Linked DNA regions of Homo sapiens: region 1 is reported to be linked to region 2. The links are microRNA targets in miRTarBase. Many come from high-throughput screens and were not tested one by one. Region 2 holds a microRNA gene; the other region holds the end of a gene's coding sequence.
What was found. Region 2 holds the annotated microRNA hsa-miR-585-5p (CUAGCACACAGAUACGCCCAGA, at 3,474-3,495, opposite strand). A microRNA usually pairs through its seed, bases 2 to 8, with sites in the 3' UTR of a target mRNA and lowers its output. Matches are read on the target gene's strand: a 7mer-m8 pairs with bases 2 to 8, a 7mer-A1 pairs with bases 2 to 7 and ends in A, and an 8mer does both.

Region 1: the mRNA of CBX6 is a reported target of hsa-miR-585-5p. Seed matches in the 3' UTR shown: 7mer-A1 at 8,612-8,618.

The regions. Positions count from the first base shown.
Region 1 is chr22:38,857,248-38,867,111 of GRCh38, forward strand. It overlaps CBX6 (chromobox 6), which reads right to left. Exons shown (of 5, transcript NM_014292.5): 5 at 4,175-9,864. The coding sequence ends at 8,962. Among named protein-coding and RNA genes, the nearest start is that of CBX6, 10 kb to the right of the region's middle. RefSeq lists enhancers at 2,325-3,204, 6,805-7,684, 7,685-8,562, 8,681-9,492.
Region 2 is chr5:169,260,176-169,270,284 of GRCh38, forward strand. MIR585 (microRNA 585) reads right to left here and starts at 3,519; the gene lies at 3,426-3,519. All of the region lies in intron 1 of SLIT3 (slit guidance ligand 3), which reads right to left.

The sequences.
Region 1 (9,864 bases), not on the chromosome of region 2:
ACTGTGGGTAGGGCTATCCACAGAGGCTTGCATTTGCTACTAGTAGCCACATGTCTGTGGTGTAACTCGCCCCAGGTTTTTTTCTTATATTAATTTCTATACTTGGGAGTCCTGGGACCATATGGGTAATACAAATTCAAACCTCAAATGTGTGTTAGTGAAGGTCTAGAGTTAAAATTTCTCAAGAGATCATTCTTTTCAAATTTTTTCCAGCCGAGCCAGAAATGAGACTACAACTTTTTTGTCTTTTCCCTTTGTGAAAGGGTGATTTTTCCCCACCATTTGCTTTTTTCATTGAGGATATGGGTCCAGTTTTATTCTGGTTCCAAATTTCTGCTGGCAAGGGTCCCAGGCCTTGTCTCCTATCCCTCCCTCCACAGGTATAAAATCCAAGCTCCTTTGGTTACCAACATTAGCAAAAGCCACCACCTCCCACGCCCATCTCCTGCCTCCCTTTGCCACCCATAGGCCCACCCTGTAGGACAGCCAAAGAATAAACACCTGCTTGTCACTGTGATTTTTGGCTTTTCTCTTTGTTTTTGGTCCCTGGGGATTTTTTTTTTTTTTTTAATCTCGGAAACTCAGTTGGGTATTTGAAAGAATGTTTATGTTTTACCCAGTCTTTAAGTATAGACAGAAGGTTAGCAGGACAGAAGGTTCTATCTTTTCATGCCTCAGACCTGGGTTCCATTCTCTCTGCCTCTGAGTGATTTTGCAGAGCATCCCCACCCTACAACTCTCAGGCCTCGCCTTGCACCTATCCAATGGGGTTAATCATTCCCCAGCCTCACCTCATGGGGGCTGCTCATGGAGATAAAAGGTATGAGATTGATGGGGTAGAGGCGGGCGGCAAGGGGCTGGACATTAACCCCTGGAATTTCCAGTGGCTTCCAGAGCTAAGCACCTATGTCCGTGGTGGTGCTTCCAGGATGGCTGGTGACCAGTCATCTCAGAGATGAGGTGCACTAAGGGACAAAGACCCTTCAGCAGATTTGTCCAGCAGTGCCTGGGTGGGCAGGAGCTCGCTCTGAGCCTCAAATCCATAGATGAAAATCCCTCCAGGACCCTATGGCTGATTTACTCCCAATGTGTCCCTGGAAGCTGTGTCCTCCACCAGGTTCTCCACCTGAGAAGAATGCACTCACTCACTCCTCTGCCTATACCACATACCCAGGTGCTTCTTCGAAAAGGCTTTTATACAAGCTCTCAAAGGCAGTCCCTCACCAAATTCTAAATATTCCAAACATCCCATCCACTCTGGCCACTTTCTGTTGTCCCCACTGCCTCAGGCCTCATTATCCTCGCCAGGGTCATTTCGAGTCTCGCCCTGGAGTGGCCTCTGTCCCTCCTGGGACTCCCTCCTGAGCTCACAGCTTCCCTGGCTGATGCTCAGCGCGTGTGGATGTCTGGAGGCCAGGACGGGGCCTCCCCCTGCTGCTTCCTTTGTGACCCCACCGCTGTGGATCAGGTGTCCTTGTGCTCGGCCTCTGCAGGCCACCAGGCCTTTTTGAAGTCTGTCCTCCCAGAAGCCAGCAGCCTGAACAAAGAGGGCACAGAATCAGCTCGCAGACCTGTTAGCTGGCTTGGGGGGGGGCTGGGCAATTTGATGTGGCCTCTGTCACCTCCCTATTCACTCCAGGCATGGCTTGACATGGACCAAAAAATTTCAACTTTTAGCTTTTAAAAAGCAACCAAGGGCTGGGCATGGTAGTTCATGCCTGTAATCCCAGCACTTTGGGAGGCTAAGGCAGGTGGATCACGAGGTCAGGAGTTCAAGACCAGCCTGGCCAACATGGTGAAACCCCGTCTCTACTAAAAATACAAAAATTAGCTGGGCGTGGTGGCATGTGTCTGTAATCCCAGCTCCTCGGGAGACTGAGGCAGGAGAATTGCTTGAACCCAGACCCAGGAGGCGGAGGTTTCAGTGAGCCAAGGTTGCACCCCTGCACTCCAGCCTGGACTACAGAGCAAGACTCTGTCACAAACAAACAAACGTAACCAGGTAATTTTGCAAAAATAGTCATCCACATCCCATCCCATCCCCCTACTCCTTGGCTTGCCCCACCCCTGAGCTTCATCCCACCGCTGACCCTTAACCCTGGGAGGAGGCCCAGGAATAGGACAAGGAAGGGGTGGGGGCCAGGCAGGCACCCCCCTCTCTAAGCCGAGTCAGCTCGCTCTCGGGCAATTGCTTGGTATTGCCCAGTCCTCTTCACAAACTGTTCAGTTCCTCGAGAAGTTGCCACAGCCTCCTCACTCATTAACCCTCAACTAATAAGGAGACTTACCTGCTTAGCAATGGCAGGACTTGTGATCAGGAACACGGTGACTAATTTCGGCCTGCACTTGCCTCACATGGGCTGCCCCATGTCCTCATTCCCAAGAGCTTGGGGTTCAGGGGCAAACAGATGGGGCTGGGGTGAATGCCGACTCCCCTGCTCCAATTGTGCCCCCTTGGACAAATGAACAAGTTAATGACTTCGCCTCTCTGGCCTCCTCTTCCCCATGACATCTGCTCATAACTCATGGGCTCGCTGGGCACGGGTTAGGGACATGGGCTAGGGCCAGTGACGTGCTCACCAGGGCTTGGCCGATAGTAGGTGCGCTAATAATTTGGGGTTCAAAAAAATAAGTACGAATGAGGGCTTTCTGGGAGTAGAACACCAAGGCAGGTGCTCAAGATGACAAGGAGGTGGCCGTGAGGTGCAGCAGTGGCACTGAGCAGGACCAGCCCTGGCTTACTGGCTGGCCTCCCCTGCCCTGTGGGTGCTTCACTGTGGGTCCCTTCCCACCTGCCTGCCCAGTGGCAGCCCCGTATCCGGGACAGGGACACACTCCCATTTGTCCTGCTGGCCCCTGCCTGGCCCAGGCCAGGCCCACTGGTAATGCTCAGAGGCAGTTGGTTGATTGCACTGAGCCCCAGGTCTACCTCTCAGCCGCTCCCAAGCCTCACTGTCCCAGCCAGCATAGGAAGAGGACTGAGCTTGGTGACGGAGATGATCTGGGCCTACCATGTGCCAGACACTGAGGTGTGGGCAGAGAGGGGATGAAGACCCAGCCCTGTCCTTAGGAAGGGGGAAGGACAAAACCGCAGGTCAATACCGAGGGAGGAGACAGGGCAGGGCCCGGGAGGGCAGGTGGCAGGGGAGGGGCTTCAGGCAAAGGGAGGCAAGGAGGAGGGGGGCGGGGAGGTGGAGGCTAGGGGAGACTTTGCACCTCAGCCATTTGCAGATGGCACACAGGCTGTGTTGAGCTGTGGGGGCTCTGGGCATTGCAGCCTGGAAATTAACAGCAGGGTCTGTCTGCATTGAATATCCCCAGCGCCGGGACCAGGCATGACAAGGAACTAGATCACACTCCTGCCTGCCTAGAGGCCGTGGCGCTGGGGCGGTAGCCTCCCTGACCCCTATGGCACTGGTGTGGAAGACACAGGGGGCAGGTGCAGGCCAGGATGGAGACTGGTGGACCAGGCCAGAGCCGCTGCCAAAGCAGAAGCGCTCAGGACCCCAGGCTGCAGGGCGGGGAGATACTAGAGAGGCCAGACAGGAGGTGGGGTGGTGAGGAAGGGGAGACCAGAGCGCTACCTGTCCGAGGCCTGGCAAACAGGTGGCCACGGGAGTCATCGGGAGCTTGCAGGTGGAACGCCAGGCACCTGGGGAAGGCATGGAAGTTTGCCTGGGGCTGCTGCTTTTAAGCCCACCTATGTGGGGAGAGGGTGCGTCACCTCAAGAGAGAAGGCACATGGCACCCAGAAAACAAACTCGAAGACCACCATTCTCATTATCCGAATGTGATATCGGACTTTATGGCACGGTTGGGTGCCAAACTGTAGGACCCAATGGCAAGAGCAGCTGGTGCCCCATTCCGGCCTGCTCCCTTCTGGGCTTTGGGGCCACAACCCCAGAGGCCCCTTCCTCTCTGCGGGTGCTGTGATTCCCACTGAGGGACAGGCAGTGATGAGACCTCCATCCTCCCACTCTCACCTACCCGTTATTCTCAAGGGTCCAAGAAGCAGCAGGCATCTCTTTTTCCCACTGAGGCACATGTGAGCTGGGGGAGTGTGGGAGATAGGAACCGGGAAGCAAGTGAGTGCCAGCGGTGGGACAGGGCTTCCCCCTCTTCACCTGTCACTGGAGGGACATGGGCCTGCTACTTTTGAAAAGCCAGTCACAGCTGGAAGAAGACACAGACACACCCCAACCTAGGGGCTAGGCCTCAGCTTCGGAATGTGACAATTTATTTGGGGGGTAAAAGAGGCTTTTCACCCCCCTTTCCTGGCGTTGATACAATATTGAAGAGCAGCAGAACAAACGTACAAGACAGAGTAATCGGCACAGACCCACCCCTCCCCCGGAACCGCCGAATCCAGAATGGAGCCCAAACCCACACCCCCAACTAAGCGTCTTCTCCACAGGGGGAGGGGCAGGGTGGACTGGGGGACCTGCCCCCCATGCTGGGGCGGCACCTCCGTTTTCCATCTCCTGCCAACCCCACTCTTTTCCCATCTTTGACCACTGGAGGCAAAGTTTAGCCAGCTGGGAGCTGGATGGTTGAACCACATACAAAGGCAACAACACTTCATTTTAAAAATGAGAGAAAAAAGAGACAGTGCCCCTCCCCAAATATAGAGCTATATATGTATATTTTATATATATAGAATTCATTCGTGCACAATTCATTAAATGAACGTCTCAAAAATTAAAAAAATTATAAGATACGTATTTCTTTAGGCCTTTGTGTTTTTAAATTAAAACCAACAAAAAGAAGTCTCCCTCTCCACTCCACCCAGCAGCAAGGGCAGCCGGAACGCTTCGCTCCAGCTACCCGGCCTCCCGCAAGAGGGTTCCCCCATGAGACCGTTAGTCTCTCTTTGCCTGGCTGACTACCTGCATACAGTAGGCACTCACTGCTGGAGTGAGGCACTGACTCCTCCAAAGATTGCAGGGGGCGGAGGAGGGAACCACGAAGGCCTGGGAGGGGGCATCTTTGGCCCCCACTAACCATCTCCCTATTTCTGCATCCTGGTGACCGTCAGCAAGAGATGAGTCGGGGAGACCCTCTCCTGGAGTTCTAGCCCCTAATTCTGGGCTTTCTATATGAGAGGACATGCAGATAGGGAAGAAACTAAAACCTTTCAATGTCTTCCTTTTTTCTTTAAAAGTGTTTCCTCAAACCATCCCCGTCCCAAAGAGGCCGCCTTGGGCAAGTGCATGGGAGCCCGGAAGTGGAACTGACCAGGTGGGGCTCCACTGTCCTGTGTGGGCGAAGTGCAAAAAAAAAAAAAAAAAAAAAAAAAAAGAAAGAAAGAAAAAAGAAAAACAAAAGAAAAAAGAAAAACCACCACAAACCAAAACAACAAAATGACACAGAAGAGTGGGCAAAAGGGGGATGTGTCCTCTTGGGTCCCCATAGGCCAGAGAGGCTGGTAGCAGTCCAGCCCCCTGGCCAACCCAGCTCCCTGTTGGGGCTGACCCTCCAGCCTTGGGCGGGCCCACCGGCCTGGCTCTCCTCCAGGACCTCCTGGCTCAGGGGCTCGAGGCCAGTCTTGTGCTGGCTCCAGGGCCTGGGCCCTGCCTTTTAAAGGGCTTTTCCCCATAGGCCAAAGCATCCTGGGCCCCAGTCCCTGCCGCATTCCCCCAGTGAAGCAGCTGCGCTTCTCCAAAACCATTTTCACCTCTTCAAAAAGGGGCCATCCCCCCAACTCTGTCCACCTCACACTGAAGTTGGGGACTTGATCATCACCTCTTCCCAGATCATAGGAAGGATGAGGCTCATTTTGACCTTGACCCCTTTGCAGGGTGAGAACAAAGAGGGGTTGTGGGCAGCTGGGGGCCCCAGTACCAGCAACCTTGACCCCCCACCTGGTACTGGGCAGCTGCTCTGACACCAGCAGCGCTTTCTGAAGAGGGCTTGCTACCCAATACACCCATTTCACAGAAGGGCAAACTAAAGGTCAGAGTGGGCACCCAGACAGGGATGGGTCCCAACTTACCGTCTCAAACCAGAGACACCAGACCTCACCGGTTTCCTATGATACTTGGGTGGGGAGGGGGCGCACTTAAGGGGAGATGACGGATGCCCCAACCAATATTGAACGTAGGAGGAGATTGGGCTTTGGGGGTTATTTCACATACAAAAATAAAGCAAACCAGATTGCAACTTCTGCTTGGTAATTAGGCAAATGGAAAGCAGCAAGGGTGGACGAGGGGCCCATGGAGGCTGATCTCCCAAGGGAGGCCGATCCGTGCAAGTGTGTGGGAGGCGGGGGTACTAGAGAGGGGAGGAAGGAGGCTCCACTCACCCTCGGTCCCATCCACTCGGGCCCCCATGGGCACTGCCCACCTCAAGGCGGTGTGCCTGGTGCCTCTTCATGCACCAAGGCTGGCCCGGGCTGCTCCACTTGGAGCTCAGGCCAGCAGAAGCAGACCACCTGTGGCAAGGGAAATGCATTCCCTCTCCCCAGCCACCCCCAGGGGCCCAGCTTCTTGCCTCCTGAAGCCTGCATCCCCTTTCAGGCCAGGGAGGCTCAGAGAGGTTGTGGGCTTTAGGGTGACCCGTGGGGAGGGAGGTCTCCCCCATAGGGTGGCGGTGGTGGGGACCAGATGGCCCAACAACTGGGAAAGGAACAGAAGGGGGCAAGAAACCAAACTGCCCACTCACCAGCCCCCTGGAGAAAATCACCAGTGACAACCCCCACCCTCCCAAACCTCAGCTTGCCGGGACCTGCAGCTTGGGTTAGCTCCCGGGGGCCCGCTGTTGTCCTTCCCTTTGAGCAAGCACGGGTGTGGAGATCTGGGTCCAGGCCCTCTCCACAGTGCCTGCGATGCCAGGGGACCTGCCAGCTGGGCCCAGGCCTCCGCCCCATCCTGACATTGCCACCTCACCTGTGCAATCACTGCGTTACTATTTTTTCTTAAATAGCTCTTTCTCCCCCGCCACCCCCCCATAGGAATCCCACAATATTTTTTTCTATTTCTTTTTTTTTTCCTCTTTTTTTGTTTTTGTTTTTTTGCAAAACTAATTCTTTCACTTTCCTGTCATAAAATCACCTCTGAAAACACAACTTCTTTACAAAAAAGTCACGAATGACACGAACTCTCAGGAAAACACATTTCTATGGTCTCTGGAAACACCTGTAACTGGCACCCAGGTGGTCACTCACCTGGGGGAGGGGGTCAGGGGGAAATCACCTCCAAGGACAGAGGAGAAATACCAGCCCTTATTTGGGCGAAAAGCCAATTGGCACTTGGACGGCCACAAAGCCAACACACAGGGCAGGGTAGGGAGGGGCCGAGGAGTATCAGCCCCCGCCCCAACCCTGCGAGGGTCCCCGTTCTACATCCCGGGGAGGGGAGGGCTAGGGCCACGCTGTGGGCCCTGGCAGGGAGATTGGGAAGGAAGGCAGCCTCCCATTCTTAGGACCAAAGGCGCTAGGGTTCTGATCGGCCTCCTGCCAACGTGCTTCTGAGGGAGGGGCCCATGGCAGCACAGCCAGGAAGCCAGCTCCAGCCACGCCTGGAACACGCCACCCACGCACAATGGAGACCCGGGAAGTGGCCCAGGGCTGGCCAGCGGGGCCCCGGTCCCAATTCTGGGACCAACACCCTCATTCTCCTGGAGAACACAGACCCTCTGGTCTCCCCTTTGCCTGCCTGCCCTCCCAGGGCCTGGCCTAAGGCTGGGGCTGTGGCCTCTGCCACTGGCACGGGTGCCTCAGCTCCCAGGCAGCAGAGGGAAACAGAAGCTGCCCAGGACACGGGAGCCTCCTTTGCTTCAGGCAGGCTGGGCTGTGAGAAAGCCTCCGTGGTCAGAAGCAAAAGAGGGGCTGGGACAAGCCGGGAGGCCCTCGGGAATGGATTCTTCAGCATCCTCCCCAAACACCCGGAGGAAGAGGGAGCTTGGAATGGGGTCTCCCTCTCTATCTCGGTCCCCACCATGATGTGAAGTGAAGGTCCGACAGGTTGGGCTGACCACCCTGAGGAGGGCAGGGGGGTGGGGGGCACGGTGCCCCCAGCACACCTGGGCCAGGAGGGGAGGCCTGGTGACTTCCACAGCAAACCTCCAGACCCAAGCCTGGTCCCCAGGCCTACTGAGGCGAGAGGCAGTCCAGGCCTTCAATGCCCCTGTTCAAAGGAACTGTAAAGGGTGCCACCCGGCAGCCTGGGGCCTAGCACCCAATGCATGTATGAACCCACGGACAAACACAGCGAGTGGGGCAGACGCACAACTGGAAGTTTCCACGGCAGGTTCTCGTAGCACCTTTGGTCAAGAACTGAAGGGGCCTTTAGATGCGGGGAGGCTGTGGCCAGGCGCACCCTCTGCCAGTTCCTCCCACCGTTGAGGGGGTTAGGAAAGAGCCAGGGCTGGGGCAGGGCATAGGGGGTCTACTTAGGCCTCGTCCAAAATCGAGCAGGGAAGACCCCGCCCTGGCCCAACTTCTGATGCCCTGGCTGATGTGGAGGGAGGAGCCGAGTCAGGCCTCATCCTTGGCCTCTGCCTGGGACTTTGCCAAACAGGCAGGAAGCCCTCCTCCTGCCTAGGCATCTGCAGGAAGGAAAGGGACTGTGTCCACCCTCGGTGGGGGGCTCCTAAGGGCCCCACAGCTGCCAGGTTAGCACCGAGAAATCAGACGCCGCACAGGAGAGCAGGAAGCAAGCTAGAGAGACAGGTGGGATGTGGAAGGGGCAGAGGAACCCTAGTTTCTAGGGCTTTCCAGAAACCACCCAGTGGGCTACCATGCATGGGCAGGGGGTGTGCCCTTCCCCTGCCCCATTCCAGGGTGGCCCCTACCCCCGGCTTTCTGGGACCCCAACTACCCAGCCCCATCCCTGGGTCAACACCGAGCCATTTGAGACAAGCAAAGCACAGGGAGAGAGGGCTGGGGGCAAGGGTGGGGTGGGAGCAAGAGTATGACTTCGGGCAGGAGGGCCCCCCCAAGCCCCCCTCCTTGGTGGAGCCCCCTCACTTGCTCGCCCCAATGCTGCCACCGCCCCCAGCGGCGCCTGCTACCCCAGCAGCCACCTTCTCGAAATCCTCAGGGTTGCAGAATTCCTTGATTGTGACCGTCAGGAGGTTGCTGGTGACATCGGTGACGACCACATTGGAGCAGGGTGACATCTCGGGGCGCCAGTCCCCAGCCTCGGGCTCGGAGGAGGCACCGGCGGGCTCAGGGGCCGTGGGAGGTGCCGGGCCGGCAGCAGCTGTGACCTCAGGCGGTGCCCGCTTGCTGGTGGCTGCCGACTCGGGAGGGAGGGACAGGTCGAGCACCTCCGGCTCGCGCCAGCTGGGGGCGGATGGGCTCACGGTCTCGGGGAGGAGCTTGGGGGGCGTGTCGTCGGGGTCAGAGGACTGTGGTGTAGGCGAGGGGCAGCCGGAGGAGCCAGAGCTGCGGGCGTCGTAGGGGGCGGCGGGGGCGGCCAGAAGTAGCCCAGGGCCCGGGGCTGAGGCCTCAGCCTTGCCGGGGGACGGGGCTACCAGGGGGGCGGGCGGAGGCTTGTACAGCGCAAAGGCGCCGAACTTCATGTGGCGGATCTGTGTACGCAGGACGCTCTCGCTGAACTTCTTGCTCTTGCCTATAACGCGGTTCCGCGAGGGGACTTTGGGGCGGGCCAGCGCCCCGGCCCCCTGCCCGGCGCCCCCGCCGCCAGCGCCCTTGTCGATCACCTTCAGGTTCAGGATGATGCGGTTCCGCTTGGGCTCCCGCGGCTTCACCTTGCGGTTGATGATGCGCACCGTCTCCGAGAAGGGCGAAATGGGCGGGCGCAGTCCGGGGCTGCCCCCCTGCGGGTCCGGGCGGGGCAGGGGACGGCGGGACATACGGTGGCAGCGGCGGATGTCCTTCTTGAGCCGGTGCACGGCTGCGCT
Region 2 (10,109 bases):
TGATTTGAGGACTCCTACTCAGGAAAGGGGTAAGAGGAGCCAGAATTAAGAGGCCCCCATAGCACTTCCTGACCCTTCATTTACCACCAGCAAAGAGGTTCCAACCAAATCAGAACAAGTTGGCAAGGAAGCAGTGGCCTCAGTTTCAGTTATGCACTCACTACGCTTTCCACCTGAATGGGCCACATCACAGAAAGGGCAAGGTTCTGTGCTTTTTCTCTTCCCTATGAGCTAAGCAGGGGATGCAGGAAGGATCAGACCGAGGACGGGGTATTCGTCCTCCCTGAGAGCTCACCCACGTTAGCTAGTTTTGCCAACAAAGGTTACAGTTCGTCTTTATGACTGTCCATTTCTTGGTTCCAGGACACTTTTCTTCCTATTTCTTCTGGCTTAGAGGTGATAATTGCTCCATTGCTTCTATGGTCTTGGGTTCTACAGTATCTCTCTGAAACATACCCACACCTCTGAAATGATCCCTGTGTAAATAAATCAACTCTCCTGGAATATTCCTAATTTGAATTTTCTACCTGTTTTCTATTTCTTACTGATACACCATTCATTCATTCATTCAACAAGTCTTCATCATTAAGTTTCAGGAATTGTGCTAAATGCTGGTATATAGCTATAAACAATAGTGGCGTGGTCTCTGCCCATAAGAAACTCAGAGTTTAGAGAGGAAGAAATAAAGGAGTAATTACCATAGACTATGATAAACGCTGTATACCATAGGTTGGCAACCTTTTTCTTTAAAGGCCAGATAGTAAATAATTTGGGTTCTGCCAGTCATGTTTTCTATCACAACTATTCAACTCAGCTTTGTAGTGTGAGAGTAGCCTTAGACAATATATAAATAAATGAGTATGGCTGTGTGCCAATAAAACTTTATTTACGAAGACAGACTGAAGGCTGGATTTGGCCCAGGGGCTGTCGTTTATAGACTCCTGCTCTCTACTATGCCAGAGGCATAAACAAAAGCTTACAGAAGAGTATGGAGGAAGGAGTATGGAGTAATTGGGGTGTAGGGTCGGGGGAGGCATCCAGGAACAGGTGACATTTTAATTGAGACCTCAAGAAAGAGTTGGCTATATTCAGGTTGGCATAGGAATATTCAAGAGAGAGAAAAAGAATTTTAGGTTTAAAAACAAAAAACAAAAAAAAACCCCAGCATGTATAAAAGCCCAGAGGCATTGCCTCAGGATAACTGCCAGCAGATTTATTTGGCTGTTAAAGCATGTTTCAAGAGAAACACAGATCTTTCTTCCCTTCCTTCTTTCTTCTTTTCTTTCCTTATTTTCTTCTTTCCTTTCCTCCCTCTCTCTCCTTTCCTTAATTCCTTCCTTCCTTCCCTCCCCATCTCCTTTCCTTTTTTTAAAATCCCTCCCTCCTTTCCTTGCTTCTTTTCTTCCTACAACAAACTTTTATTAAACACCTACTCCAGACCTGGCACTATGCTGATGGCTAAGGATAGACAGTAAAACAATAGCAAAGAAGTTCCTTTTAAGGAACTTTTATTTCTTTGCTGAATGCCGCAGACAGATTCTAAGGTGGTCCCCAGTATCAACACCTTCCCCTCTCCTTGAGTGGGCAGAACCTAGAGACCTGCTTCTAACCCATGCAACACAAAAAAGGTGGTCGGATGTCACCTTTGTGACATGTTACATGGGACGGCAATGCCCGTCTTGCTATAGGACTCTTTCTCTTGCTGGCTGTGATGAAGCAGGTGGCCATGTTTGGGAGGCCCACATGCCAAGGAACTGGAGGCAGCCTCTACCCACAACCAACCAAGAATTCAAGACAACCAGCAGGAACCTGAAGCCTTCTAATAGACTGCAAGGAACTGAATTATCCCAATAACCTTGAGAGCTTGGAAGCAGGTCCTTCTCCAGTTGAGCCTTGAGATGAGATCACAACCTCAACCAAACCCTTGTGTGCAGCCTTATGAAACCCTGAAGCAGAGGGCCGAGACAAATGGAAGGTGCTGAATGCCTGTTGTTTTAAGCCACGAAGTTTGCTATCATTATATGACAATAAAAAACACAGGGGGAGATAGGCCACCACAAATAAACAAGGAGACTACAGACTGCAATATGGGCATAGCTAGGAAACAGTACAGGGTGAGGTGAAGAGAATAAAGATATGGTGAGAGGCAGTGAAGGCACTGCCCTCCCTAGGGTGTCCAGGAAGAACCTCTCTTAGAGAGTGAGATTTGGTCTGAGACTAGAAGGAAAAGAAGGATCCAGTTGAAGGACAGGCTGAAGGGAGACGTTTCCAGGTGGAAGAATGGAAACAAAAAGGTCCAGGTGACGGCAGCAGAGTGACACCAAATGGGATCACAGAGGCAGGTGGTGTCCAGGCTGTGAGGCATCTATGGGGCTGACAACATGCTTGGGGACTGGAACCATAAAAGGGGCCGAGCAAGGAAACCACCAATTTAAGAGCCCTCAGCCTCATTCCCCTGCCATCAATCCTGCCAGATTAATTTCCCCCAAATGTCAATTTCATTCCACAGCTCAATAAGAAGGGGGTTCTCATTACTGCCCTCAGCTTGCCTCATTTAATTCTTTCTTCTTTATAGCCACAGACATGTATTGAGCACCTATCAGATCCAGGAACTGTGCTAGGCACTTCATTGGCACATATGTTCCTGCTGTCTGTATGCTGGCCTCAGAAGCCCTCAAAGTCCTGCGTCCATTTAAATCCTACTGCTCTGTTATGGGCTGAATTGTGTGCCTCAAAAGATATATTGAAGTCCTAACCCCAGCTACCTATGAGTGTGATCGTATTTGAAAGTAGGGTCTTTGCAGATGTAATCAGGTTAAATTGAGGTCATTAGGGTGGACCCTAATCCAATAGGACTGGTGTCCTTATTAGAAGAGGAGACAGGGCTGAGCAAAGTGGCTCACACCTATAATCCCAGCACTTTGGGAGGCTGATGCAGAAGGATTACTTGAGGCCAGAAGGGAGTTTGAGACCAGCCTGGGCAACATAGCAAGACCCTATTTCTACAAAAGAGAAAACCAGCCAGGCATGGTGGTACTTGCCTATAGTCCCAGATACTCAGGAGGCTGAGGTGGCAGGATTGTTTAAGCCCAGGGGGGCAGAGGCTGCAGTGAGCTATGATTGCACTGCTCCAGCCAGAGTGACAGAGCAAGACCCTGTCTCTGAAAAATAATAAAAAGACGACGAGACAGACATGCAGGTATAGTGCCGTGTGACAACAGAGGCAGAGACTGGAGTGATGCAGTTACAAACCAAGGAATGCCAAGGGCTGCTGGCAAGCCCAGGAGCCAGGAAGGAGCAAGGAAGGGCCCTCCCCTGCAGATTTCAGAAGGAGCCTGGCCCTGATGACACCTCAATTTCAGATTGCGAGGCTCCAGAAGTCTGAAAGGATGATTGCTGTTGTAAGGCACCCAGTTTGTGGTACATTGTTACAGCAGCCCTAGCATACAGATACGCCCAACGTTCAGGCTTTCTCTGGGCGTATCTGTGTGCTAGGGCTGCCATAGCACAGACACCCCACACTCCCCCTGCAGCCTCCCCCAGCTGCTCCATCTCGTGCTGGCTTCTCCCTTCCCTGAACTTCTGAACTTCTGGATCATTTACCCTCTCTCTGCACAACTCATTTTGGTCTTTCATCACGTTGCCTTGCTGCTGCCTGTTTCCTGTGTGTCTGCCTTGTCTCCCAAAGGACCTTGAAGAGGATACTCCCCAACTTCCTCCAGACACCTTGGATGAAGGCCTCATGGAGACACTCAGAAAAATGTACACTAGGTTTCTCGGGGTGGAGAAACGGGGTTTTTTTTTTTTAAACATTTTACATTTTGCTTATCAGTATTATCAATGTTTTCTGGAGTAAACATGTATTATTCAATATACCTCCTACCTTCCAAAAAAAACCACTGAAAAAAGGAGTCCAGTTAACCTAAGACTCTCCCCATAGATAAAGTGACCATGCAGAGTTTAAGCCATTCAAGACTCTGGAATTTTAGCCATTTAGCCAAAGGAAGATGCTTTTTGGTTTTGGGGGTTGTTTTTTGAGACAGAGTCTCGCTCTGTCTCCCAGTCTGGAGTGTAGTGGTGCAATCTCGGCTCACTGCAACCTCCACCTCCTGGGTTCAAGGGATTCTCCTGCCTCAGCCTCCCGAGTAGCTGGGATTACATGCATGTACCACCATGCCTGGCTAATTTTAGTAGAGATAGGGTTTCACCATGTTGGCCAGGCTGGTCTCAAACTCCTGACCTCAAACCCACCTCAGCCTCTCAAAGTGCTGGAATTACAGGCGTGAGCCACCGTGCCTGGCCGGAAGATGCTTTTTGATGAGCCCAAGGGCAGACCTCTGAAACTGCTCACATCAGGCGGTCCTAATGGGTGTCTTCCTCTGTCTCCTCTCCCCAGTCCAAAGGACCTAATGCCACCCACCCAGCTACCCTGATGAAAGAGAGAAACAGCATGTGTTTGAAAACCATCAAATCACCTTCCTACCAGGTCAAGGAGAGCAGTGTTTCCCTTTGGGCCACCCTTATAGGGCTCCCATCTCATGCTTTACCTCTCCAGACTCACACCACAGGAGGCATTATTAACTATTCTGATTTTTGCACTTCGTTCTCATCTGTTACATAACCACATGCAAGTTTAAAAACATACACGCATTTGGGAAAGAAATGAGCTGAATTTGATTTTAAAAACTGGCTTCACACTACCTCAGTTGTTTGGGAACTAAGCCTCTCTGGGCTAAATTTTTGGCTTGGCAACACTCTCGCATATATAATTTTACACCTGCAAAAGCTTGCAGCCAGCCCTGTGCAGACAGCTACCTGCAGGGAGAAGAATGGGCCAAACAGAGGGGCAACCCGGGTGGTTGGATGTGGTCATGGTGAGGGCATGTAAAGAGGAGTATTGGGCATGGGGTCTCTTTTCCTTCATCCCTTGCACCAGGAGGACTCCCTGCCCCTGTTTTGCTCAGTTCAGCTCCATGCTCAAAAACAAACAAACAAACAAACAAACAAAACGTACAACTAGCTCTTTACTGGGAACAGCAGAGACGAACTTGCAAACTGGTAGCCCACCGGTGAGTTCTGGCCTGCAGACCTGCGTAGTCTGGTTCTCACTGTGATTTTCACATATGCAAATTAATTGCCAATTTGGGAGCATTTCAAATACAAATCTACAATTCTGGCTTGTCTCCAAAGGTCAGTCCATCAAATAACAATGGATTTTAGTGGCCATCATAAGCTGGTACTAAGAGGCAATTGCCCACTTTGCATAAGGTACATGCCTGCAATTCACCAGTCCACCTGATCCAATTCCCTCACTCAAGTTACCTGCTTAATCTTTTTTCGCATCAGAGTTTGAGATCCCTGCTGCCAAACATAGCGCTTAAGGTGGCAGGCCCTAGAATCAGATAGCCTGGGCTCAAATCTTAGCAAATAGAGCATGATTTTAGGCAGGTTATTTAACTCATCCCTAAGCTTCTGTTTCTCCATCTTAAATGGCCATAATCACAGTACCTACCTCCTAGGATACTGCAAGAATTAAATGAGATGATACGTATAAAGTGATTCTAGCCCAGGGCTGGTCATGCAGTAAGTACTCAAGAAGTAACCATCAATTGGCTGATTATTATTCAGGCAAAATGTGAGCACAAGTAAGATGATGATGTTGGCAGGACCTCCGTGCTTCTAACACAAAGGTGCACCTGGTCAAATCCACAGCTCCACCCCAAATCTCCTTCATCCACTTCAGGCACATCAAAGCATCTGCAGAGACAGTGCTTCCTTCCTGTCACACAGAGGACAACCCAGCCAACACACTCAGAAATAAAAAATTCTTCCTAAATTCTTCCTGTAATGACTTAAGGCAACGTATTCTTTTCTCAGCACTAACCTCCAGGTGGCGACTATCAGTCCAAAAGTTTCACCTTTTATTTCCCTTATCATGCCCAGAAATCTCAAACCCTTCCAAACTCCTTGCAAGGCCTGTTCTCAAAACACTTCCCTGCACTGCATAGGAGAGCACATGATAAAATGGCTCCTCCAATCACCGGGAGGCAGGAAACAAATCCTAGAAGAGACTGGGGCCAACCTTTGGAAATGTGGCAAGAAATGTAGGGAATACGGTATGGCAAGGATAGTGCTCTGTGTTCACCAAACTGTTCCATTTTCCTCCTAGGCAAACAACAAGATTAAATTTCCTGTGCCCTTTGAATCTAAGTGGGACCATGTGGCTGATTTCTGAAGAAAAGGAATGTGGGTGGAAATAATACGTGCCATTTCCAGGCAAGGCTATAAAACATCCTGCAAGCATGACACTCTCCTTCCCTTTCTTGTCTTCATGGCATGTAGAGATCATGTGTCATAAATGGAGGGGTCCCCCAGAGGAAAGCAGCCTGGGTTCCTAAGTGACAATATGGATCATAAGCCACCTACCACCACCCAGACCAGCTCTACTGGACTGGGTGGGTGGGAGGAAGAGGAAGAAATACAGCTTTATATTGTTTTGTTACTGATATATCTGGGCTTATTTGTTGCTGCAGCTTAGCCTTGTCTATGCTAACTGATACACCTAGCAATACGGCATAGTAGGAAAGAATGGCCCAAGTTAAGCATCCATGATCTTCATCCATGATAATCCAGAGCATGACTTTGTAAAATTTTCCTTCCTCATCTTTAAAAGGAGGAAAATAAACTGATCCCCTAGGGTCACAATAATTCTCACTGGCTTTGGATCCTAACACATATTACCTTAAGCAATGTTTTTAAGAAGGCCACTTAACTCCGGTCAATAGAGGTACAAATGCTGCACCCAACCAACATTAAGGTCCAAATAACTTTCTGCTATTTACTATGCAGGAGCCAATCTACAATGAGTGTTTACCATGTGCCAAGGACTATGCTAAACACTTCACATTTGGGGCCTTTTTTAATCCTCACAACCAGCCTATGAGGTTGATGCTACTTATTAGTCCCATTTTATGATTGAACAAATAGAGGCACAGGGAGATTAAGACACCTGTCTATGGTCACAAGCTGAGAAGTACCAAATGAACAAGGATTAGTGGCTGAAAATTTAGCAATCAACTTGCAGCAAGTAAATATAGAGTCCTAAAGGGTGAAAGAGAAATTGAAATGACCTGGTCAGAGAATTTTAGTAACATACTCAAAAAGTTTAGCTAAACTAATAAGCTCCAACTTACTGGGCTCCAGGGCCATATCTGATTTATGTTTGAATCCCTAAGGCTCAGCACAATACCTGGCACATGAAAGGCACAAATCAATATCTGTTGAATGACTGATGTTAACTTGAGCTCTTTATTGACAGTTTTAACTGAGTTACATTTGCCCTTAATTGACAATGGCTTGAGATCTAAAGTTGATGTACTTCACTTATACCAGTAAATCTGGGTATCAGTTAGAATTGGAATGACCATATGATTATCCAAACTTGAATACTTTTGTGAGTTAAAGGGGAAGTCATTAATAATTATACCACAGAAACAGGCAAAGATCAGATCAACACAAATGGTCATTCCCAGCTTGAGCCACAAAATATCGGCAACAGGAGTGGGTGACAATGGAAATACTCATATGGGGCCTGGTTGCCCACCATGTCTTTGTTCTTAAGGAGACCTTCTTCCTGTCCACTTGGGCTGAAGACCACTTCTAAGTCTATGGCTATTTGCAGGACACATCTTGGTTAAGTGTCATTTTCTGAATGGTGCCCACCTCCCAAGTCCAACCAGTCACAGAGCACATACACTATTAACTTTTAACATAGGTGCAGTAATCACTTTAAGAAAACGAAGGAACAGCCCAAGGAATGCAATGATTGCTGCAGGAATATAAACATGGACTGCATTGGAACAGGCTACATACTTTGTATAAACACTAATAAAGTGAGTTCAGGCTGAGCTGTGACTTTAAAGGAAATTCTTCCCCATAAACATGTCCTGCCATGCCCTAATAACTCTTTAATTTGATGCACATTTGGGAAGGATGATGCGAAGTAATCACAGAATAACGTTAAGGTCTGTTGCGAAGGAGGAGTGGCGGAGGGGGGAATGTGATGCAACTTGGTGCTAACACCATGCACCAGAGAGTTAGCTTCATTGCTCATTTCACACATGGAGGGAATTTGCCGAGTGACACGCAGGAAATCAGAGACAGGTCTCTGCAGGTTCGACCCAAGGAAATTCTGAATGTCATCTGATGGCACCACATAAGACTCCCAGTCATTTTCCTGCCTGTCTTTCCTTGCTGGAGACAGCAGAAGTGGCCCTCACTTGCAGGCGGAACTCTCCAATTTCCAGATCAAGGCTCTTCCAATTTGAATGAGATATAAACTCCTTGAAAGCAGAGAACCTTTCTTACACATCTGGGCATCACCCACAGAGCAGACACAGCCCCCATATCCATGAGAGAAGGCAACAGGGCACGGAGTTGAGGAACACTGGACAGCAGCTGTAGCATCAGGCCTCCAGTCCCAGTTTCATTACTACTCGTGTGTTTTGGGCAAACCACCCTTATCTGCAAAATGGGTTAGCAGCACTTGCAGAACCTCAGAGGGTTTTTGAGATGCTCAAGTGAGCCAATGCAAGACAAAGCATTTTATAAATTTTTTAAAAAGTTGTACTGCTGGAAAACTATAAAAATAACAATTAATAATGGTTTTCCCACGTATTGATTTATCATGTCATATCAGGCACTGTTCATCTCCCCTGAAATATTACAGGAATCCTATAAGGGGGACACTCTTATTATCACCATCATCGTATGTTATTATGAAAGCCAAAAATAGTATTTATGGGAAAGTGAGGTCCAGAGAGGTTAAATAACTTGCCCCAATTCACACATCTTCAAAGTATTATCCACGGAGTAATGATTCTGGAGGACAGGCCTGGATGGTCTGAGCTCCCTGCTCTTTGCTCTAAACTCTCAGGGACTTGAAGGTGCCCAGCTTGTCTCCTTTATTAGCCTGTAAGCAATAAGGGCAAGGGCTGTGGGGGTTCACCTTCATGTCTCCAGGACCCAGGGAAGAACTAGGGAGGTAAACCCTTTGGATCCAATGACTGCAGGTCCTCCCTCTCCTTAACCACTCTGACTTATATACCAACTCTTGTTGACTCCACGCAACCGGCCTTGGCCCAAGACACAGCTGATGCTGTCTTTGGCCAGGTGCTTAGCACTGGGCTCCTCCACTCTCTATGGTTCTCCACCTTTACTGACATGAGAGGCCTCAAACTAATGCCCCAGCTGCCTAGAAATGTGTCCCCAAACAGCCAGGCAGATCCTCTGCACTCACCAGGCTCATTCCAAGCCCCATGACTTTGCTCAGGCAACTCTCCCATCTGTAATACCCTCTCCCATGGATCAAAATGAACTGCAGCTGTCAGGAAGCTTGGCTGAGGAATGGGGACCTACTTCAGTAGAGTGATGAAGATTTGGAAAGGAAGAGAATGCAGTCTGACAGTGGGACCAGAGTGGGACCACCAACCCCATTCAGGCAGAAGCCACTTCTCCCATGTGGCACTGATAAAATGCCAAGGGGCAGGAATTAGGGAGGGAGAAGGGCCCAACTGCCTCTCCAACCAAAACTTCATGTCCACTCCCAACGAAGACAAACATCCTTTCATCATCCATGAAACCATATCTTGCTTATTATGACAATTTTTAAAACTTCTGATTATTCCTTTGAGAATCCAATTTGTTTCCTTTGCAAGGAGGAAACAATTCTCTTCTCAGTTTGGGAGGTGGGGACATTCCATTTATCTTAAGGGGAGGGAAATCTGTTTCCTATTACAAATCACGTTCTGTAGGTCTGTTTGTGAAAAATAGATCTCTACACTTTACATAAAAATGAAAATTCTCTTTACTCTTACAAACATCCATGAAGACCCACAAGAGGGAGGCTCCCGCCCTCTCCTCAGCCATTGCCACAAAGATTGGATTCTCATCCCTTGCTCAGAAAAATTTTTACTCTTTCCTCAAAAAGCAGCAGTGTCCCCAAGTCATCCAGCACACCTGAAAGAGTATACAGTAATTCATTCAATCAGCGTTTATGAATGGCAACTTAGTGCCAGGACCGAGTCTAATCCTAAGAAGGCACAGATTAA